4 separate regions of the Homo sapiens genome follow, and regions 2, 3 and 4 are each linked to region 1. Evidence: fine-mapped expression QTL. A gene starts in region 1. Each other region holds a variant in brackets. All regions are shown on one strand. Distances are from middle to middle. Region 1 holds the start of SLC26A8 (solute carrier family 26 member 8). Region 2 holds the start of LOC105375034 (a long non-coding RNA gene). Region 3 overlaps MAPK14 (mitogen-activated protein kinase 14). Region 4 overlaps BRPF3-AS1 (BRPF3 antisense RNA 1).

The links. PIP is the estimated chance that this variant, and not a neighbour inherited with it, causes the effect. A credible set is the group of variants that fine-mapping cannot tell apart.
Region 2: its variant is the best candidate, but not a certain one, in a credible set for the expression of SLC26A8 in whole blood (INTERVAL, PIP 0.54).
Region 3: its variant is the best candidate, but not a certain one, in a credible set for the expression of SLC26A8 in monocytes (TOPMed, PIP 0.72).
Region 4: its variant is the best candidate, but not a certain one, in a credible set for the expression of SLC26A8 in whole blood (TOPMed, PIP 0.54).

What each region holds. Positions count from the first base shown.
Region 1 is chr6:36,020,866-36,027,143 of GRCh38, forward strand. It overlaps SLC26A8 (solute carrier family 26 member 8), which reads right to left and starts at 3,776. Exons shown (of 20, transcript NM_052961.4): 1 at 3,639-3,776. RefSeq lists enhancers at 3,221-3,722, 3,723-4,222.
Region 2 is chr6:35,992,719-35,998,996 of GRCh38, forward strand. It overlaps SLC26A8 (solute carrier family 26 member 8), which reads right to left. Exons shown (of 20, transcript NM_052961.4): 5 at 5,020-5,201. LOC105375034 (a long non-coding RNA gene) reads left to right here and starts at 5,140. Exons shown (of 4, transcript XR_926746.3): 1 at 5,140-5,245. RefSeq lists an enhancer at 382-895. The variant T/C (reference allele first, on the strand shown) is at 2,483.
Region 3 is chr6:36,070,198-36,075,197 of GRCh38, forward strand. MAPK14 (mitogen-activated protein kinase 14) reads left to right here. Exons shown (of 12, transcript NM_139012.3): 4 at 2,676-2,787; 5 at 3,494-3,523; 6 at 3,852-3,899. Among named protein-coding and RNA genes, the nearest start is that of MAPK14, 45 kb to the left of the region's middle. The variant A/G (reference allele first, on the strand shown) is at 2,500.
Region 4 is chr6:36,169,448-36,175,725 of GRCh38, forward strand. The region is part of intron 2 of BRPF3-AS1 (BRPF3 antisense RNA 1); the gene reads right to left. Among named protein-coding and RNA genes, the nearest start is that of BRPF3, 24 kb to the right of the region's middle. The variant GACA/G (reference allele first, on the strand shown) is at 3,270.

The DNA of each region.
Region 1 (6,278 bases):
AGATGATGGGTGATGCTGCAGATAAGTTTAATGTGTCAGCAACTTTGTTTTCCTTCAGAAGAATCATCATCATCATCATTGCCAACATTTATTGGGCATTTATCCTATGCCATGCATTGCACTAGATTTCTTCACGAGTTATGTCATTAAATTTCCACAACAATACCAGTACTACTATTTCTTTCATTTTACAGGTGTAAAACCAAGATTTTAGAAAATGTAAGTAATTGGGCCATAATTATATATTGTATTTTTACCCTCAAAGCATTGGGTAGAAGTAATATGCTGTATAACAACCATGAACTAAAGATCACAAATTCTCTAAACCAGTGAGGTGACTGGGGAATACAGAAGAGGATGGGAGAGGTATTTTACAATATATTACTTAAGATAATTAGTGCCTCATGTCTCTTACAAAAAGAAAAAAAGGTAGAACTGTATATTGAAATGTAAGGAATCCCCCCCCACCTTTCTTTCCCCACCCATAGGAATACAGACCCAATCTTCCTTACTTTCCCCGTATAATTGTCCAATGTACTTCCATGAGTAGTCTCTTTGTTCCCAGCAACCTAAACAAGCCTAATTAGTCTGCTAATGACAAAACTGATATCCTGGGTCACATCGAGAGTCTAGAACCCAGCATTTTGTTCTGAAAGTGACATTAAAGGAGGATTGGTGTAAAATAGGCAAAATATGACCGTCAAGGAGTGGTGGGAACAGTGGGGCTGGCAAAGGCAGCAGAAGCTGCTTAGCTCTAGCCATTTTTGCCATCGGTCAATGTGGGGCCCGGAATGGCTTAGATCTGATCTTTTCCAGGAGAAGCCATAATGCCAGATTTTTATGTGGAATCTTCTGGCTTTTAAATGTTGTCAATTACTTTACATATGTTTACGTATACATATAAATATATATGTATATTATTTTATTTTATTTTTTGATATAGAGTCTCGCTCTGTCGCCCAGGCTGGAGTGCAGTGGCGTGATCTCAGCTCACAGGGTTTCACGGTGTTAGCCAGGATGGTCTTGATCTCCTGACCTCGTGATCTGCCTCCCTCGGCCTCCCAAAGTGCTGGGATTACACGCGTGAGCCACCGCGCCCGGCCTATTTTTTATTTTTTTGGAGATGGAGTACAGCTCTGTCACCCAGGCTGGAGTTCAGTGGCGCGATCTTAGCTCACTGCAACCTCCACCTCCCAGGTTCAAGCGATTCTCCTGCCTTGCCTCCTGAGTAGCTGGGATTACAGGCATGTGCCACCACATCTGGCTAATTTTTGTATTTTTGGTGGAGACAGGGTTTCGCCATGTTGGCCAGGCTGGTCTTGAATTCCCTACCTCAGGTGATCCTCCCGCCTCGGCCTCCCAAATTGCTGGGATTACAGGCGTGAGCCACTGCGCCTGGCCTATTTAAAGTCTTTCAGCAGAAGTAGTAATACGCACAGAGATGCATTTTGGGAAGATGAAATGTGCCAGTGTTATGTTCTAGAGCTGAGTTGTCCAGTATGGTAGCCACTGGCTACATGTGGCTATTTAAACTTAAAATAAAAAATTCAGATCCTCAATTATACTAGCTAGATTTCAAGTGCTCAACAGCCACATATGGCTAGTGGTTACCTTACTGGACAGTGCAGATATGCAGATATAAAAAATTTCCATCATCACAAAAAGTTGTTGGACAGTGGAGATAGGAGAGACTGAGGCAAAACAGCCAATTGGAGACCATTAATATTAGTCTAGGAGATGTTATCAAGTCATAAACTCCTACGACCACAGTGAGGATGGCTAGGAGGAGCAGGTGGAAAGTTGTCTTTAAGGAACTCCATCAAATGTCTGGCTAACAGCAGCAAGGGTAAACGCATGGTTTCCTTATTATTTTTTTTAAGTAATTTTCTTTGGAATTTCTCCAGCTCCATTATGTCTTTCTTGATTTCATAGAAATCCTAGTGGCTCATTTTCATGTACTAGCAGGACACTTCCCAAGAAGATGCAATGACCAGAAACTCCTACTGTTGAGTAGGCCCCACTTAGCAAGACCTACTGAATCAGAAACTCTGGGGGCCATCAGTCTGTTTTAAGAAGCTGTCCAGACTGCTGGGCCCCCAGAGATTCTGATTCAGTAGGTCTTGCTAGGTAGAAAAAAAGCAAAGAAGCTGTCCAGGTGATTCTGATAAAAATTAAAGTATGACTACCACTATAAATATAGTGGATTATCTTTCATGAGCCTTTCAGTGCTAAATTTGGGGGCCCTGTTAAAATACAAGCACTTTTGGCCTAGCTCTTTCACCCTCCATAGTACCCTTATCCATCCATCCATCCATCCATCCATCCATCCATCCATCCATCCATTTATCTAATTATTTACATTATCTGTGTTCAGAGTGCTTTAAAAGTAAAGAATAGGCCAGACATGGCTCAGTGGCTCATGCCTGTAATCCCAGCACTTTGGAAGGCCAAGGCGGTTGGATCAGCTGAGGTCAGGAGTTCAAGACCAGCCTGGCCAACATGGTGAAACCCCGTCTCTAATAAAAATACAAAAATTAGCCGAGCATGATGGCGTGCCTGTAGTCCTGGCTACTCAGGAGGGTGAGGCAGGAGAATCGCTTGAACCTAGGAGGCAGAGGTTGCAGTGAACCGAGATCAAACCACTGCATTCCAGCCTGGGCGACAGAGCAAGACTCTGTCTCAAAAAAAAAAAAAAAAAAAAAAGTCAAGAATAAAAAGTTTAAATACAATCCAATTTTTTAGCTATTGACCCAAATAATATGAAATCTTGAAAGCTAGTTTAGTTGCAGGAATATCTTCCCCCTGATATTGTTAACTTTCTTATGTTTTCTATAATCACGGAAAGGCAAAATTTACTTCCGAATTTTCAAAATAAGCATTTGTAATTCCATCAGAAACAACCCTACACCTGTTACTACCTAGGTTTTTATGGAGAATGTATTGGGAATACAGAAAAGGTATAAGCAAAGAGCCTGGCCTTTAGATCCTTTAGTCACTCTGGCTAGTGGCTAGGGATGACTAGTAAGATGACAGTCCTTAAGCGGATGACCATTGGACACATAAACATAGGACAACCACCTTCCATGCAATGTGGATAGAGTAACATGGTGTGTTGGAGAGATGCTCATTATTGGGGTGGGGGTGCTGGAGAAGGCTTCACGGGGCCCCTGACACATCAACGGCATTTGACATGAAAAGAAAGGGGCAAGGAGGTGGGGGTGGGGATTCAGTCACAGGGAACAAAATTAACAAAAGCAGTGGGGTCTGAAAGGAAGAGGAACGGCCGGGCAGTCAGGCCTCAGGAGGAAATGGATGGGGTAGGCGGTGGGGTGCAGGTAGCACGTCAGTTCTGGGGCTTTTGACAATATAGACAGGAGAATTTGAAAGGATGCAGCTTGCAAAACGCACACACTGTTGTCTCTTGTCATTGCCATCCACACGGCCTTTGAAAGTAGAGACAATACCTCAGAGATAAGCTCCCAGGGACGACCATCATTCATTCATTCCACAGATACTGACTGAGTGCCCACGGCGTGCCTGGCTCTGCGGCATACCTGGGTACCTGCCGGTGACGGACGCAGCCCCCGCCCTGGGACCTGCAGCCCCCGGCGCCCAGGCGTCTCCCAGCAGCGGCTCACCTGGCTCCTTGGCGGGGGCGGGAGTGCGGGCGCTGGGATCCCACACGGCTCTCGCCTGGCTGGCGGCGCTGCGGACGCGGATACCGGCGGCGGTTCCCGAGCCGTTGTGGCCTAGCCCGCGGGCGTTCCGGGCGGGCTGAGGAGATGAGAGTGGGGGAGGGGACGAGGAAGAGGAGCATGAGCAGCTGGGCTAGGGAGCCAGGAAAGTGGTACCTGGGTCGCCCTCCTCATACCTGAGTCGTGGGATCCCCTTGGTATTTGGTAAACCTGTATACCAAGGCTCCTTCTCTCTCCGAGGTTTTGCTATTCTTGATCGAGGGCCTATTTGGTGCCAGGCCTCGTGTCCTGAACATACAGCAGTGCACATGTGTCACATGTGTACTGCACAGACGGTAATTCACTAACGTCTCCGGAAGACTTAAGCCTTCCTCAGGTCAGAAGAGGTAAAAAGAAATGGAGGCTAGGAGGGTCACCCAGGTCTCCAACCATAGGCTGTCTGCCCCACAAACCCGGCTCTCCCCACTGAATGACACCCTCCTGCCCAGATCTGCTCTGGATGCAGACATGCCATCTGCACTCACTCCCTTTACCCTCCTCCCACCCTATCCCTGTCCCTAGCACTGTCTCTCACTCCACCTTGTATTCCTGCTTGGCCCAGTTACAGTTTTACACTTGTTTGTTTGATGACTGTGTTAATGTCTACCTTATAATGCACTTTATGTATTCCTTTTTGTAAATCATCTTACCCCTATGAGGGCAAGGACTTTTATCCCTTTCATTAACTGTTTTATTATCAGTGCCTACAGCAGTGTGGTGGACATAGGAAGTATTCAATTAATTTTTGTTGAATGATTGCCCTCCCATTGATTGTAAGCTCCACACCGGCAGCAACTGTAGTTTTTAATCACTTTTAAACTGCAAGTGTTTGACACCTAGTAGGCATTTAATACACATTGGTTGAATGAGTGTATGAATATACTGCTTACTTTATCTTTACCCTTTCATTCACCCTCACCTCATCATCCCAATTTGTAGGATAAAAATGTGCATTTCTGAGGATTCCTACTTCCAAGCTTCCTCCTCACCCTTTGTAACCATTCCCTCATTCCCTTGATCCCCCCAACCCCATCCCTCATGTCTTCACAATCATGTTTTTGCTCTTACTTCCCCTTCACCCTCCATTACTTCTTAGAAAGCTTCCTATCCTCCCTAGTTTGGAACATTCTCAAGCAACATGTTTTTGTAGATAAGAGAATTCCAGCCTAAGCTACATTGGATCCAAAACAGCTTTCCATGAATCACCCATGACTATCTGTTTTTTGGTTTTATATTGCTTTCCTTGAAGAGGACTGAGGATACTGTACCACTTGAAATCATGGTCACTGTTCATAATTTTTTCAACAAATATTTATGACACATGTTTTATGTTCTAGACATTGTGCTAGATGTTGGGACAAGATATGCAAAGTCTGAGCCCTCCAAGGTGTGTATGACACAAAATAGAATAATCACGGGAAATGTTGAGAAATGTCCTGGCTTGGATCTAGTTATTTCTAATACAAGAAACTAAGAGAATGAGACAGGATCTGATTCTTCTGCTCATTGTAACAAGCTTTAGCATAGGCATAGGTTGATAATGGATGTAGGCATGGGGTTAGAATGCCTTGCCCATTCACATTTATCTTGTTTGGTTTTTACAAATGACTCTGTTAGTCGGGAATGCAGGGCAGGAATTCTCTCGTAGAAGCTGGAACTGAGGTTCAGGAAAGGTCAGTTGACTTGCCTAAATTCGATGAGACTCCTGCCCTATTCTCCTTACTCGAAGAGGCCTGAGTTAAATGCTTAAAATCCTCTTCACTGATGGCTCTTCAGGATAGGAGTCAGTTTCAAATCTTCAGTGTAACGGTTTTTTAAATGCTTCTCAAAGGGAGATATCAGAGACTTTCCTGAATCAGAATCACCTAAGATGTATTATAAAAATGCATGCTCTTGATCAAGACCTCCTCTGACCTACCCAATTAGACTCCCTGTGAGTTCTGGGAACTTGCATCTTAAACTCCCAGGGTGATTTTTCTGCATGTAAGTTTAACTGGGAGAGTTTTAATGTAAAGCTTCGGTTTGTTTTTGTTTTTGTTTTTGTTTTTGAGACGGAGTCTCCCTCTGACGCCAGGCTGGAGTGCAGTGGCGCGATTTTAGCTCACTGCAACCTCCGCCTCCTGGATTCATGCAATTCTCCTGCCTCAGCCTCCCGAGAAGCTGGGACTACAGGGTCGTGCCACCACGCCCAGCTAATTTTTGTATTTTTTTTAGTAGAGACGAGGTTTCACCATGTTGGCCAGGATGGTCTCTATCGCTTGACCTCGTGATCCACCCGCCTCGGCCTCCCAAAGTGCTGGGATAACAGGTGTGAGCCACTGAGCCCAGCCCCTGGAAAGCCTCAGCTTTGATGCAGGGTTAACATTTGCCTTTGGGACATATTTCGTCAGCATCTCAAAGAGTAACCCATATGTCCTTGAGCAGATGGGAATGCAACAGCCTTCTGGCCGGAACCTGTCTCTTTCTTTCTTTCTTTCTTTTGAGACGGAGTTTCGCTCTTGTTGCCCAGGCTGGAGTGTAATGGCACGATCTCGGCTCACCGCA
Region 2 (6,278 bases), 28 kb before region 1:
CAGCAATGGCACCAATGGCACTCTCCAGGAAAAGAAGGGTTTCCAATAGAAAAGTTAAGATAGGCCCCTTTGGTAACTCTTGTAACTCTCTTTCCCTAATGAACAGAAGTTGATAACACGGGTCCTTGTATGTTGATCAGAGGCTCCCAACAAGTGCTAGCTCACACTACTCCTTTCCTTCTTTGTGAGCAGTCAGCTCACTTAAGTTCTTGCCCTAGAATCTACTGCTCTCTAGGTTGACTTGGGGAAAACAGGGACAAGGTGATCAGAACAAGCCTTTGCCTATTTATTTATTTATGAGACAGGATCTCACTCTGTTGCCCAGGCCGGAGTGCAGTGGTGCAATCATAGCTCACTGTAACCTCAAACTCCTGGGCACAAGGGATTCTCTGCTTCAACTTCCCAAATAGCTGGGACTACAGATGCTCACACTGGGCATTTTTTTTTTTTTTTTTTTTGATAGAGATTGGAGGGGGGGGTCTTGCTATATTACCTAGGCTGGTCTCGAACTCCTGACCTCAAGTGATTCTCCTGTTTTGGCCTCCCAAAACCCTGGGATTACAGGCATGAACGCACTGTGCCTGGCCTGCCTTTGCCTTTTTAAACCTCTTTCATTAGAAGCTTTGATAGCCCTTTTCAGGAGATGTTAACATTCCTCTGAGGAATGCAGCTTTTCACAAAGGAGAAGAGAATTTCAAAACAGTGGGATCGAGCTCAAACTTCTTGGCCTTTGACTCTTATCTTTACTGAGAATAATTAAATTGAATTTATTTATGTTTTCAGGATTATGCATATCCTGAAGGAAAATAAAAAAGGTATTTTACATGTCAATATGCATATGTAAAATTTATGTTATATAGTATATAATAAAATTTTATACACACAGGATCTAAAAGGATAGACCTCAAATGATTAACAGGAATTACCTTTGGGGAATGGGGTTAGATGTTGGGGACAATATTTGATAATTTATACACTTTTTTACTATTTGAGATGTTCGTCTTTTATAATAAAAACCACAATTAGGTTGGGTGTGGTGGCTCATGCCTGTAATCTCAGCACTTTGGGAGGCTCAAGTGGGAGGGTCGCTTGAGCTCAGGAATTTGAGATGAGCCTGGGCAACATGGCGACACTTTGTCTCTACAACAAGAAAAATAAAAAACAAAAAGAGGGTAGGTTAAGAAAACTGGCACAGCCCAATGAAGACTTTTCAGTAAGCAGGGTGGAAAGGAGCAAAACAGAAGTCTTAAAGCTTACAATCATCACTTCACTCTCCACTCCACTAAAAGCTCTCAGAAAACAAACAAATTTGGAACAATAAATCATTTTGCTTTAACAGGTTTTTGTTTCAAAGCTTTCAATCAGCCCGGCACTGTGTCTCCCTTTTTTTTTCTTTTCTTTTTTTTTTTTTTTTGAGACGGAGTCTTGCTCTGTCGCCCAGGCTGGAGTGCAGTGGCGTGATCTCGACTCACTGCAATCTCCACCTCCCAGGTTCACGCCATTCTCCTGCCTCAGTCTCCCGAGTAGCTGGGACTACAGGCGCCCGCCACCAAGCCCGGCTAATTTTTTGTATTTTTAGTAGAGACAGGGTTTCACCGTGTTAGCCAGGATGGTCTCGATCTCCTGACCTTGTGATCCGCCCGCCTCGGCCTCTCAAAGTGCTGGGATTACAGGCGTGAGCCACTGCGCCCTGCCAACTGTCTCTCCCTTAATCTCCTGTCATTGCCGCCCAATGTTCTATTTTACTCTAGTCAGGCCAGTCTGCTTCCTATTTCTTGCGTGACTGGCTGACTCCTACTTCTGTGCTTATGCATGAGCCCCTCTTTTTTCCATCTCTGCCAATCCATGTGCATCATCTCTTTTTTTTTTTTTTTTGAGACGGAGTCTTGCTCTGTCACCCAGGCTGGAGTGCAGTGGTACAATCTTGGCTCACTGCAACCTGTGCCTCCCAGGTTCAGGTGATTCTCCCACCTCAGCCTCCCGAGTAGCTGGGATTACAGGTGCCCAGCACCACGCCTGGCTAATTTTTGTATTTTTAAGTAGAGACAGGGTTTCGCCAAGTTGGCCAGGCTGGTCTTGAACTCCTGACCTCAAGTGATCCACCCGCTTTGGTCTCCCAAAGTGCCGGAATTACAGGCGTGAGCCACTGTGGCTGGCCTGCATCATCTTTCAAGAGCTCAGTAAAATTCCTCTCCTTTAAGGAGTGTGGTGAAAAAAGCATGGTTCCTGGGCTTGGAGAATCTGGCTTCAGTCCTGGCCCAGCCACTCATTGGCTGTGTAAGTGTGGGCAAGTTAACTCTTTGAACCTCAGTTTCCTCATCTATAAAATGTGAATAATATTCAATGTAAAGTGTTTTGAATAGATTAAATTTCATCACACATGTAAAATACCTAGCTCAGATGTGAAAATAGTGACAAATATGTATCACTCATATATGCAAATATATGTTACTCTTCTTCATACCATCCCTGCCTTCCATCT[T/C]GTAAATGGCAAAAATCTGCAATTGCCTTAGAACTCTTTCTTGCCCACTGTAATATGGCATCACGTTCAGTGTTAACATAATATTCTAGGCAGCCACTGTTAATCAGTCAGGGTTGGCCTGTGAGATGAAACCTATCTGCCATTCTTATAGGAAGCCAGTACTAAATGTTGAATGAATGAAAGGGAGGGCTCAATAAATAGTTGTTTCCTTCCCAGATAACTTCGACTCAACTAGAGGTTATTTTTTAACTTCATGTTCTTTTGGCACTAAACTCTTATATGAATATTATTTTATGCTTAAGATTTCCTAGAGCACAGATTCTACAATCAGACAACCCTAAAACTGAATCCCAGTTTGGTGTCTTAGCTATGTGACCTTGGGCAATTTTCTTAACCTCTCTATGCCCTTGTTTTCTTAAAATAAGGACCATAGTAGTGTGCTACAGGCGTGCACCACCACACCCAGCTATTTTTTTTTTTTATTTTGTTTTGTAGAGACAGAGTTTGCCTATGTTGCCCAGGCTGGTCTCAAACTCCTGGCCCCAAGCAATCCTCCTGCTTCAGTCTCCCAAAGTGCTGGGATTACAGATGTGAGCCACCATGCCCAGCCCTCTTCCTTTTTTAGATGAAAAAAGCTGAGGCTTGAAGGAGAAGAGAAAGCATGCATGAGGCCCCTTGATAATTAAAAGGTTGCTTGTGTATTTTGTCTTATCCCACAAGATTAAACTTTTTAACCACAGGAAACTATATATTGTTTTTTAAATTTTTGGTCTCTGTTAAAGTACCAAATTCATTTCTCTGTGCCCACTAATTATAACTTATTGATGCTTACTATGTGACAAGCTCTAGGCTAAATACTTTGCATGCATTTTTTTCACTAAATCCTCCTAAGAACCCTGCAAAACAAATATTATTCCTGCTTTATACATGAGGAAACTGAGGCCCACCAAGGTAAAATAATTTACCAAAATTCACACAGCTCATAGTGTCAGGGCTGGAGTCTGCCCACTTTGATAGCCTGCCTTTGTAGGTACCCAATAAATCTTTACTTAGTGAAAGACAGTCCCAGGGGAGATCAGTGAAAATCAACTAGAGACTGGGTTAGTTGAGAAAAAAGAGAAATAAGCCTGGAGGATGTGACTAGTTCAGTAGATGAACTTTTGGTGATAGACTCTCAGAGGAAATTAAAGACAGAGCCAAAATAAGTTTTGAGATTTTAATGAGTCATTCATATTATTGTCCTTTAGCTGTGGTCCTTGTCAATGCAGAAAAAGGATTCCAGATCTGGCTCTAAAGCTTACTAACCCAAAGATAGTGTGTGAGCCTGTGAGGCCATCATTATTTTTATTATTATTATTATTTTGGAGACAGGGTCTCGCTGTGCCACCCAGGCTGGAGTGCAGTGGCATGATCACAGCTTACTGCAGCCTCAACCTCCTGGGCTCAAGTGATCCTCCCACCTCAGCCTCCTGAGTAACTGGGACTACAGGCACATGCTACCATGCCCAGCTAAATGAGTCCATTCTTGTTGATAGAATATAAAGCAACTTTTGGCTGGGTGCAGTGGCTCACACCTATAATCCCAACAGTTTGGGAGGCCGAGGTGGGTGGATCACCCGAGGTCAGGAGTTCAAGACCAGCCTGGCTAACATGGTGAAACCCCTTCTCTACTAAAAATATAAAAATGTGCTGGGTGTGGTGGCATGCACCTGTAATCCCAGCTACTTGGGAGGCTGAGGCAGGAGAATCACTTGAACCTGGGAGGCGGAGATTGCAGTGAGCCACGATTGTCCCATTGCACTACAGCCTGGGCAACAAGAGCAAAACTCCATCTAAAAAAAAAAAAAGAATATGAAGCAATTTTTGAAAAGGTAAGATCAGGAGTGGAGCTCTGGACTAAGAGTCCCCAGACCCCTGGGGCCACCGACCAGTACTGGTACTGGTTTGTGGCCTGTTAGGAACCGGGTGCTGCACAGCAGGAGGTGAGCAGCAGGCAAGCAAGCATCACTGCCTGAGCTCTCCACCTTCTGTCAGATCAGCCACAGCATTAGATTCTCAGGGAAGCACAAACCCTATTGTGAACTGCACATGCGAGGAATCTAGGTTGCATGCTCCTTATGAGAATCAAATGCCAGGTCATCTGAGGTGGAACAGTTTCATCCCAAAACCACCACCCTCCCTGGCCCCGACCTGCCATTTGTGGAAAAATTGTCTTCTTTTGCAACTGGTCCCCGGTTTCAAAAAGGTTGGGGACCACTGCTCTGGACCATCATCCCTTAGACCCTTTGTCTTAGAGGTGAAAGGACTGAAGAGAATGTTTAATATCTCATCCTAAATCAGTGGTAGATGATTTCTGAGGAGAGAGAAGTTTTGTCACTAAGGAGACACGCTATTCACACAGCCTCTGATTTTTCAAAAAATAAATCACTGAAGTTCCAGGTATATCACAGTGGATCACAGGAGCAGTATAAGGAAGGGGTCTGTTTATAGCCCCTTTATTCAGTTCCTTTTCAGGGATTTGAAGACTCAGATCCTACCTGAATAATCCCAGTCAGAAAAGTTGTGGTTGCCACCACACTCAAGGATTTATTATAGCCCATAAGGTAGGAGGGGGCCGAAAACTCATTCTTGACGAAAGATCCCATGACCAGTTGACCGTTGTTGAATGGGCTCACTTTCAGAACGTTGATCAGCAGAGCACTCACCAGGAAGAAGGAACCTGTGGAAGAAGATGTTAGGTAGAAGGTGAAGTTTCAAGTCCAGGTAAACTGATATTGACAAAAGCAAGGTATGGTTGAATTCTGGATTGTCCTTCAACTGAATAACTTTTCTCATTTGAAAGTGGCCATTGAGAAGTAAGAAAAATCAAAAAAGAGAACTGTGTCTCCACATATTGTGACCAACTCATGGGATTTAGATGGTGGTGGTTTAGGTATTTAGTCTCTTTGTGTTATGGGTATGTTGAGTGGAATAGAGAAGTTGACTGAAATGGGTGTCAGGCTCAGCTGCTGTGTCTGCTCTTAGAGAAGGTTAAAAGTGAGATGGCAGTGAAAATATTAGAAAAGAAAGCAATCACCGGGCATGGTGGCTCACGCCTGTAATCCTAGCACTTTGGGAGGCTGAGGCAGGTGGATCACCTGAGATCAGGAGTTTGAGACGAGCCTGACCAACATGGAGAAACCCCGTCTCTACCAAAAATACAAAATTAGCTGGGCATGGTGGTGCATGCCTGTAATCCCACCTACTCAGGAGGCTGAGACAGGAGAATCACTTGAAGCCAGGAGGCAGAGGTTGCAGTGAGTCGAGATGGCACGATTGCACTCCAGCCTGGGCAACAAGAGCGAAACTCCATCTCAAAAAAAAAAAAAGAAAAGAAAAGAAAAGATAATGAAGCAATCAATAACAATAGGAAGAAAAATAATACTGACACTGAGGTAAATTAAACTTATTTCAAACATTGTTTTGTTTAGTCCTCATATTGTCATAACACATAAGAGAGCAAAGATATATCTTAACTTTAAATTTACCTAACATAAATAAATCTCTAACAACCCTTATTATAAGTATTTGGAAATGATTGTGAGGTTCCTCAGAAACTTGGAAATATAGGAATAAAATTGTTTTATTGGTGTTCAAATGTAAAATCAACACATAGCAGATTGAATAAAGACATGAGCTATTCTTTATTTTTATTATTTATTTATTTATTTTGAGACGGAGTTTCGCTCTTGTTGCCCAGGCTGGAGTGCAATGGTGTGATCTTGGCTCACTGCAACCTCCACCTCCCGGGTTCAGG
Region 3 (5,000 bases), 49 kb after region 1:
ATTGTGACGTTTAAAGAGTTTTAAAAAGGTCATTCCCTTGATGTAAATTTTGTATCAGCTGAAAGAATTGTTGGAAGAATATGTGCTGTGATTAAGATCATGGTCTGTGGGGTCAGTTAGTTTTAGATCCAACTCCTGACATTACTACTCTTTTTGACCTTGAGTAGATGGCTTATCCTTATTCTGTCTCTATTTCCTTGTCAATGAAATGGGAACGCTAATGGACATTATCTCACAGAGTTATTGGGAAGAGTACATGAGACATAATGAGTACATGGACATAATAAACTGCTTGCTGCAGTGCTGGACACAGAATAAGTGCTAGTTAGTGCCTTTGGTTATGTTGTGTTGAGATTGGAACATTTCTTAAAACGTTTCAGTCTCATTTACTTATTAATTACATTTAGAGTCTACTCTTTCCTCAAGGCCGTATAAACATGCAAGTTTTAAAAATATGAAATGCTAACATCTTAAGGTTGCAACTAGGTTAAGTCCTGTTGATCTTCATGAAATTGAGAACTGACCATGGCAGCCCTACCAGGAAATTATGACAGAGAAAAAAATTCCATTCCTCTTGGAGGACAGAAAGTAATAAATATAGTGTATTAGTTGTGTGTGTAGGTATATAAAGAGAGGTCACACACACACACGTTTATTCTTATAATATATTAATAATAGATCTAAATTACTGACCTGCTTTCTTCCCTCCAAAATTCATAAAAAAATGAAAATAGAAATGAAATCAGCATTCTTTATAGCTCAGCTGATATATATTATTACCCAATCTCAGGAATAGGAATGATTCTTAGACAGTAAATAAAACTTACACTTATTTTTAAAAATTCAGCCTCTTAGCCAGGCACGGTAGCTCACTCCTGTAATCCCAGCACTTTGGGAGGCCATGGTGGGTGGATCACTTGAGATCAGGAGTTCGAGACCAGCCTGGCCAACATGATGAAACCCCGCCTCTACTAAAAATACAAAAATTAGCCAGGCATGGTGGCGAGTACCTGTAATCCCAGCTACTCGGGAGGCTGAGGCACGAGAATCGCTTAATCCCAGGAGGTGGAGGTTGCAGTGAGCCGAGCTTGTGCCACTGCACTCCAGCCTGGGCGACAGAGCAAGGCTCTGTCTCAAGAAAAAAAAAAAAAATCAGCCTTTTTAGAACCGATCTACTTTCTATGTTTCCATAGCTGTGTAATACAGTAATGAGTGGGTTAAGGCATTGTGTCTAGAATATGTGTGGTGAACCTGTTGGACTTGAATGTAATCATTCCCTAATCTTACCACATAAAGATGGGATTAATAACCAGCACCACACCTGTGAGGAGAAATTCTGGAATGCCTCATCTTGCCTCCAGATAAAACATGTTCCTCCTTCCTTTAAGGTAAATGCAGGAATATTGTCAATGAACAAAATCCTTTCACTAGTCATTCCTGAAAAAGAATTACAGTTGGAAAATAAAAAAAATACTCCTATTTTAGAACCTGTAATGTGGAAGACTTATAATGAGGTGAAAATGTAGCGGTGGATTTAAAACTACAAGATACTTAATTATAGCCATGCAGTAAGTTATACTATATATTTGTCATGCAAGAATAACATTTGTAAGAAAACTGATACTGACACATGTATCTTTCTAATCCCTACCTTTGCTGTTTTTGTTTTCTTTTCTCTTTTATTTTTTGTAGAGATGGGGTTTCCCTGTGTTACCCAGGCTGATCTCACACTCCTGCCTCAGCCTCCCAAAGTGCTAAGATTATAGGTGTGAGCCACAAAGCTTGGCCTGGTTTCTTTTTTCTTGAGATAACCTGGAAAAAGATATGTCAAGTAGGAATAAGTATGTAAATGTTTAGAACAGATGGCAGGTAGTTAAAGTTAGAATAGTAATGTTGGGAGGCTAAATTGGGAGGATCACCTGAGACCAAGAGTTAGAGCCCAGCCTGAGCAACATAGTGAGACCCCATCTCTACAGGAAAATTTAAAAAAATTAGCTGTGCGTGGTGGTGCACACCTTTAGTCCTAGCTACTCGGAAGGCTGAGGTAGGAGGATCACTTGAGCCCAGGAGTTTGAGGTTGCAGTGAATTACTATGATTGCTCCACTGCATGACAGAGCATGACCCTGTCTCTAAAAAAAAGAAAAGTAAAAGAATAGCGATGTTGAAAATGAGGTAATGAGGTGCCCTTCCCCCCAAAAAATGAGTAGTTGTTAGCTTTTAGCTGTCATCGTGGTACAGCTACCATTTTAAGGGAAGGGTAGCCTTCCCTTAAAAACTTAGAAGTCGGGCCAGGTGCGGTGGCTCACGCTTGTAATCCCAGCACTTTGGGAGGCTGAGGCGGGGGGATCATGAGGTCAGGAGATCAAGACCATCTTGGCCAACACGGTGAAACCTCGTCTCCACTAAAAATACAAAGATTAGCCGGGCATGGTGGTGGGCACCTGGAGTCCCAGCAACTCGGGAGGCTGAGGCAGGAGAATGGCGTGAACCTGGGAGGC[A/G]GAGGTTGTAGTGAGCTGAGATTGCGCCACTGCACTCCAGCCTGGCAGTAGAGCGAGACTCCATTTCAAAAACAAAAACAAAAACCAAAAAAACCAAAAAACTTATAAAAGTCTTCTGAAGATAAGAACTTTCTTAGGGGTTCTAGATTGTTATGTAACTTTTCACTAATTTCTAGGTATCTGGTGACCCATCTCATGGGGGCAGATCTGAACAACATTGTGAAATGTCAGAAGCTTACAGATGACCATGTTCAGTTCCTTATCTACCAAATTCTCCGAGGTCTAAAGGTACAGATAATACAAGTAATAATTTTTTAAAATGAATTCTCCCTTTCTCCCCTCCTTTTAGGGCTTAAACAAACAAGTAAACAACTTTTCTAATGGAAAATTCAAACACATAAAATCACAGGTAAAGGTCATATAGTACAGTAAACTGCCATGTTCACTCAGTGACAACAGTTACCGACATATGGCCAATCATGTTTCTTTTGTATTTCCCAAGCCCTGGATTATTTTAAAGCAAGTCTAGACATTATATAATACCATCCATAGATACTTCAGTTTGCATATCTGAAAGATAAGGACTCTTCATTCTTACATCTAAACAATAATTTATTGATGTAATCTAATATCTGGTCAGCGTAATGTTGAGATTTTCAAAAAATCCTCAAGAAAGACTAATTTATTTGTTGGAGGGGCAGATAAACAGTGTTTTAAAATTAAACCCATCTTTGATATTTAGCTGCTTTGAGTCCTTATTGAGCTCCAGAGTGCCAACCAGAAAATAGATTAAAAGCTCAACTGAGTGGAGTCAATGGCTGTGGAAATTATAGTAATGGTAAATGTACACAATACTGATAGTTACTTATGCTGATTTCTAATCTTACTATTAACACTAGCAGTTCTTACTGATTCATGAAAATGTGCAGCAAATATGTTATATAATATGACAATAGAAGGTTGGAGGTAACTTTGACTTTTTTCTCTTTTGCAGTATATACATTCAGCTGACATAATTCACAGGGTATGTATTGTGACTTTGATTACATTATTTTGGGGAAGTGGGGTGAGAGTGGAAGAATGGCATTTAGCCAAGATCCTAATCTAAACTTTAGCCATTGAAATGTTGATTGATTGCAACTTTACTGTAGGTTTAAGCTGATTAAAGAAAGAAGATGTGTAGTTTTTTTCTATGTAAGGCTAACTTGGACTGGATATTGACTGTAGGATGGAGATTGTCTTTTGATAGCTGGATGAAGTCTTTTATGTCTGGATCCTCATTATTACCTGTAGGGGGAGAATTGATCATGCATCATAAAGTTGATCCTGTCTTCCCTGTATTTGCTTCCTAGGACCTAAAACCTAGTAATCTAGCTGTGAATGAAGACTGTGAGCTGAAGGTAAAATGAAGAGACAGTATTCATTGTTTGCTTTACTTTGAGATTATATGTTTGACTAAGCAGGCAGACTTTCTTAGGGAGTAGCTTTGTGAGCCATGACTATCTGAAATTCGTATTATTTTTATTATCAGACTTTGAAATTTAAACCATTTCTGAGTAAGCTAAGTGACATTGAAAGTGGCATCACTTGTTTTTATTTTAACATAAAGTTAAATTATAAATTTGATATATTAGTCATAATAAAGGAGGATAATAGTCAAATATCAAGTAAGTAGGCCCAAAGAGGTGATAACTAGATTAAATACATTTCTAAGAGGAGAAATGGCAGAAACCCACTCACTCAAAATAATTCAAATAAAAAATAAGTGAATTAATTGTTTCTAAATAGCAAGCAGCTCTAGAACTTTTGTTCCATTTCATTTTTTTAACTTGAAAAAATGTCTGTACATTAGAATGCACCATTTCATTTGGCAAAATTATATATCCACTTAACTCACATTTATGATAAAGACCATTTCTTTTTTTTTCCTTTTTTTTGGGATGCAGTCTCACTCTGTTGCCCAGTCTAGAGTGCAGTGGTGTGATCTTGGCTCACTGCAACCTCTGCCTCCCGGGTTCAAGCGATTCTCCTGCCTCAGCCTCCCGAGTAGCTGGGACTACAGGTGCACGCCATCACACCCGGCTAATTTTTGTATTTTTAGTAGAGATGGGATTTCACCATGTTGGCTAGGATGGTGTCGATCTCCTGACCTCGTGATCCACCTGCCTCGGCCTCTCAAAGTGCTGGGATTGCAGGTGTGAGCCATTGCTCCCAGCCAAGAACATTTGGATTACTTTAAAAAGTTTATGGCCAGGCGTGGTGGCTCATGCCTGTAATCCCAGCACTTTGGGAGGCCAAGGCGGGTGGATTATGAGGTCAGGAGATAGAGACCATCTTGGCCAACACGGTGAAACCTCATCTCCACTAAAAATACAAAAATTTAGTTGGGCATGGTGGCGGGCACCTGGAGTCCCAGCTACTTGAGAGGCTGAGGCAGGAGAATGGCGTGAACCTGGGAGGCAGAGCTTGCAGTGCGCCGAGATAGTGCCACTGCACCCCAG
Region 4 (6,278 bases), 150 kb after region 1:
CACCTAGTTTTCTTAAAAGTATCATCTACATGGTTTTGGTTTCACTATCTATTCTGTCTTTATTTGAACACTAGGGGAAATTCATTATGCCAATCTCACACATTGTGTGATTCCATTTATATAACCTTCTTGAAATGACAAAACTATAGAGATGAAAATCAGATTAGTGTTGCTAGGGCTTAGGGATGTTGAGCAGGGCAGTAATGAGGAAGAGCGTTATGGTGATAGAATAGTTCTGTATGTTGAGTGCAGTGGTGGTTATATGAATCTATACATGTGATAAAATGGTGCACACCATTTTATTTTTTACCAATGTCAAATTCCTGGTTTTGACACTGTACTGTAAGTATGTAAGATGTAACCACTGGGGGAAACTGGATGAAGGGTACACCAGACCTCTCTGTACTATCTTTGCAATTTTCTGTGAATCTATAATTATTTCAAAATTTAAAAAATGTTTAAAACGGGAATGAAGTATTGATACATGCAATAACATGGATGAGCCTTGAAAACAGTATGCTACATGAGAGAAGCCAGGCACAAAAGACCACATATTGTATGATGCAGCTTACATGAAATCAGAATAGGCAGATCTAGAGACAGAAAGCAGATTAGAGATTGCCTAGAATGGGAGATGGAGTCAGGGAGAGGGCAGAGTAGGAAGTGAGTGCTAATGGGGATGAGGCCTTTTCTAAAATTCTAAAATTAGATAGTCAGGTTGATTGCTCAACTCTGTGATGCTAAAAAGTCACTGAACTGTATATTTTAAATGGGTGGATTTTGTGGTATGTAAGTTATATAACAACTCAATAAAGTTGCTTTAAACCATTAAAAATAGTACCCGGATGTAATGGCTCACCTCTATAATCCTAGCACTTTGGGAAGCCAAGGAGGGAGGACTGCTTGAGCCCAGGAATTGGAGACCGCTTTGGGCAACATAGTGAGACCCTGTCTTTATAAAAAATAATTTTTTTAATTAGCCAGGCATGGTGGTGCATGTAGTCCCAGCTATTCAGGAGGCTGAGGCAGAGGATCACTTGAGCCTAGGTGTCCAGGCTGCAGTGAGTCATAATCGCACCACTGCAATCCAGCCTAGGCAACAGAGTGATACCCTGTCCCAAAAAGTTTTTTGTAATACTGTCCATACCAAGTATTGGTGAGGATGTAGAAAAGTTAGAACTCTCATGCACTGTTGATGGGAATGTAAAAATGGTAAAACTGCTTTGGAAAACAATTTGGAAGTTTCTTAAAGAAAAAAAAAATTGAGCATAAACCTGCCATATGATTCAGCCATTCCACTGCTAGGAATTTATCCAAGAGAAAGGAAACATATGCCCATAAAGACTTGTTCTCAAACATTCATAGCAGCTTTATTTGTAATGGTCAAAAAATGAAAACAATCAAAATGTGCATCCACAGGTGAATGCATAAACTGTGGTATAACCGTACAATGGAATACTACTAAGCGATGAAAAGGAATTAACTACTGACACATGTCATGATATGGATGAATCTCAAAGTAATTATACTCAGTGAAATAAGCCAGACAAAATAGTAATACTATATCATTTCATTTGAATATCATTGGTTACCAGGCAGGGAGGCAGAGGAATAAAAAAAAAAAAGGAATTACAAACTTTTGGAGCAAGCTTTTGGAGGTGACTGTATGTTCATAATCTTGATTGTGATGGTTTCATGGGTATATACATATGTCAAAGCTTATAAATTATATACTTTAAACATGTGCAGATGATTTTATACCAAGTATACCTCAATAAAGCTGCTTTAAAAAAACTATGCTACCATCATCTTCCTAAAATCAGCAATCATGTTTTTAATTATCAAGAATTATTTCTTGTTCTTTGTTAGTTTCACAATATTATAATTCTTTTTTAAATTAAAAAAAGCTGTATCTTTGAGAATATGAATTATTTGTTGTTTCTAACCTATTTCCTGAATTGTCTCTGGTGTCAGATTTTTTTCTTTCTTTTTTTTTTTAATTTTGATTTTCCAGTTGTATGCTATAGACCTTTCTCAATGTCTGGTGATCTTTGGCTTTCTACTCATATTGTGAAAATAGAAAAGAAGACATCTCACTGAGGACCCTGTACATGGGAGGCCTATATTGCTTTGGGTAAAGTGCAGGAATCTTACTTTACAATGAAGTTCTCAAATTCCAGAATGAGGAGGGCTTTAGGTGAGGTGCCGACATCACACTAGCTGCCTCCAGACTTTGTGTTCTATTCTTTTTAGAAAAATATTCTGTGCTGTCTGTGCTAGGACTTGGGTAGAAGGGGCTGTTATTTCAACTACCCTCCTGTGTTTAGCCTCAACATTCACTTCCACTTTCATTACCCACTGAAGAAGTCTCTCTCTCCTCCCTTATCTGATGAAGCTGTCTCTCCCTTGTTCGAAAACATATCTATCCCCTTTCCTTGTAAGAGGAAGACAATCCTCTCTAACTAAAGACAAATCCCAGTAAGCTTTTAGAGATATAAGTTCAAGTCAAACCTAGGAAAAGCTTTACACACAAAAATAAATATAGGGATATTGCCCATTTATAGCAGAACTGGATTCTGTGTCTGCCCACCAAATGAGGAGGAACATAGTTTTAGTTTGGGACTGAATTTACTGATGCGGATGTCCTTATGATTTTGGACTCATTATACTAGCAGCAGGGAATAGTTCTAACAATTTGCTCAGCTGGTTAACCAAAACCCAGAACCACCTGGTGTTCACTTGACAATGGAACACACTAAGTTGAGGTGCCAGAAGTTTCTTGAAATAATGCAGAAGTACATAGGAAGCTCCTTCCCTTAGCATTTATGAGCCCGTGGATCCAATGGTGTTCCATAAATGAGTGGCAATTGTGAATGCGATAGGAAATCTGTGACAGTCCTCAATAGGAATTGCAGTGGAGGCCCCTAAAGTAATGGAGCAAAGCCGCTGCCTCATAAGCAAGTGATTATTTTCATTTTGGAAAACTGCTCTAGCCTTGCTCTGGGGATCTGGGGGAGTCCAAGTGCTAAGATCAAAACTGCCCACTGTGAGTTGTCTCAGCTACCTAGCTATGAAGTTGGGCATTCTATGCAACATTTTAACATGAGCTATAAGAGGTATAAAATACAGAATGAGGCTCCAGCCATAGCTGAAGATACAATAAGCTGTCTGAATATAAGTAACACATGCTCCCACCATGCCTAGTCTGGCAGCTTGCCTTAGAGAATAGCAGAATGCCCTGCTGAAGAGCCAGCTGTGCCTCCAATTGG[GACA/G]ACACCTCATGAGGTTGGGGCACTGGCATGCAGGATATATTATATGTTCTGAATCATGAACCAATGTATGCGTATGTGTGGCTTCTCCTGTAATTAGAATGTACAGGTATGGAAACAATGGGGTGGAAATGGGATAGTATCTTTCATGATTAAGTCTAATGTGTTTGTTACTCATCAAATTATTGCTTCTCCTCTCCATGACTTGGGGCTCTGCTGACTTGGCATTTGGGGATCCAAGAGATAACTGCTTCTATAAGAAGACAAAACAATGTTTCCACTGCTGGTCATTTTGGGCTCTTATACCACAGGCAAAAAAAAAAATAAAGAAGGTCATGATGTTGACTGGGATGACTGGTCCTGAATAATCTTGATCATCATGGGAAAGAAGGCTGCTGCTTCAAAGTGGGGATGTGGAAATCTTAAAAATTTTGATATAGAGTCTCACTCTCTCACCCAGGCTGGAGTGCAGTGGCACTATCATGGCTCACTATAGCCTTGACCTCGGGATAGGAAAATCTTAATAGAACTCAGGTCTGCTATTCTGGAGCAGGTCTTAAACAACCATATCCAACGGAAAAAGTTAATGGAAGACTGCTATATCCCTGAAGACAGATTTACCAAGGAAGTAATTCTTATGAGGTGAGTTTGGTAAGAAACTCCAACTTACTGAGTTCTTTTGTGAAGGCAAAGGGAACATGACACAAATTACAGAGAGGAAAATTTATACATGTCAACCACAGCCCCATAAGCAATTACAGAATAGGGACTGTCACCTCTACCCATATTTCTTTCCTCGTTGGGTATATATTTATACATTTTAATGAATTTTAAAATTCCTCATCCCCACTTGTACCATTTATATTTGGTGTGCAAAAGTGGTTAATTATACAATTTCTTTTTTTCTTTTTAAAAATATCAGGTTTACTGAGGCCTAATTTTCTTTTTTAACAGGGTCTCACTCTGTTGCCCAGGCTGGAGTGCAGTGGTGCAATCTTGGCTCACTGCAACATCTGCCTCCTGGGTTCAAGCGATTCTTGTGCCTCAGTCTCCCAAGTAGCTCGGATTACCAGTGCCTGCCACCACGCCTGGCTATTTTTGTATTTTTAGTAGAAACGGAGTTTCACCATGTTGGCCAGGCTGGTCTTGAACTGACCTCAGGTGATCAGCCTCACAAAGTGCTGGGATTACAGGCATGAGCCACCGCACCTGGCCAAATTTTTTTCAAATATTTTAAATCAGCAATTGATTGAATCTGAAGATTCAGAACCTCAGAGGGAAACTATGTTGTTCAGAAGACTTACAGATTTGATTAGCTCAAGACATTTTAAAGTATGCATGGTGAAATTTTAATGGTAACCACGAAATAATAAAATTAGAATGTATAATTTCCAAACCAATAGAGAGAAGATATATGCAAAAGAAAGAAAAGAAAGGAAGAATGGGGGGGAAGGAGGGAGGGAGGGAGGGAGGGAGGGAGGGAGAGAGGGAAGGAAGGAAGGAAAGAAAGATTGGCAAAAATCTAAAATGAGACAAGAAATGTGTATATGCGTGTGGTGGGGGGAATATAATGAAAAGGGGACAAAGCACAAAGCAAGGTGATGGAAATAAGGCCAAATATATCATAATTACAATAAAGTTAATGACCTAAAAGTGCCATTTAGGACAGAGATACTTAAATTTGAAATAAAAACAAAGTCCATTAATATACTGTACAATAGGCTCACTTAAAACATAAGTCAACAGGTTGAAAGCAAAAAGATGAAAAAGACTAATCCAGACAAATACTAACAAAAGAAAGCTGAGGTAGTTATATTAATATTAGAGAAAATGGATTTTAAGACAAAAACATTATTAGGAAGGAAGAAGTTTGTTATATAATTTTAAAAATAGGGGGTTATAAGTACACAAAAAAATTGGTTAAAAAAATAAAAAAGATTTGAATAACACAATTAATTTGTTTTGTTTTATTTTTGGAGGTAGGGTCTCACTCTGTCGCCTAGGCTGGAGTGCCATGGTGCGATCTCGGCTCACTGCAATCTCTACCTCCTGGGTTCCAGTGATTCTTCCACCTCAGCCTCCCCAGTAGCTGGACTACAGGCATGTGCCACCATGCTTAGCTAATTTTTATATTTTTTGGTAGAGACAGGGTTTCACTATGTTGGCCAGGCTGGCAGGATTAGTTTTTGATCACACAATAGAACACAATAGAACATCTAAAAATTAGGGAATATTCATTCTTTTCAAGCACATGTGGAACATTTATAAAAATTAAATACTAGTCCATAAAGTGTCAGCAAATTTCAAATAACTGCTATAATAATAGCATTCTCTGACTACACTAGAATTAAATGAGATGTTAATAATCAAGAAAAAGGCTGTCTGTGCTGGCTCACACCTGTAATCCCAGCACTTTGGGAGGCTGAGGTGGGCGAATCACCTGAGGTCAGGAGTTCAAGACCAGCCTTGCCAACATGGTGAAACCCTGTCTCTACTAAAAATACAAAAATTAGCCAGGCGTGGTGGCAAGTGCCTGTAATCCCAGCTACGTGGGAGGCTGAGACATGAGAATTACTTGAACCTGGGAGGCGGAGGTTGCAGTGAGCCGAGATCGTGCCACTGCACTCCAGCCTGGGCAACACAGCGAGACTCCATAGGAAAGAAAGAAAAGAAAGAAAAGAAAGAAAGAAAGAAGGAAAGAAAGAAGGAAGGAAGGAAGGGAGGAAGGGAAAGAAGAAAGAAAGAAAGAAAGGAAGGAAGGAAAGAAAAGAAAGGAACTCTCCATGTATTTATAAATTTAAAAACACACTTCTAAAAATGTCAATACTCCCCAGATTGATATATAAGTTAAATAAAATTTCTACTAAAATCTCAGCAAGGTTTTATGTAGAATACACAAAATTAGTCCCCAAATTTATGTGAAAAGACAAATAGAATAGCCAAAATAATTTGGAAAAAAGAATAAAGTGGGGGAACCAGTCTTCCCAATTTCAAGATTTTTATAGAGCT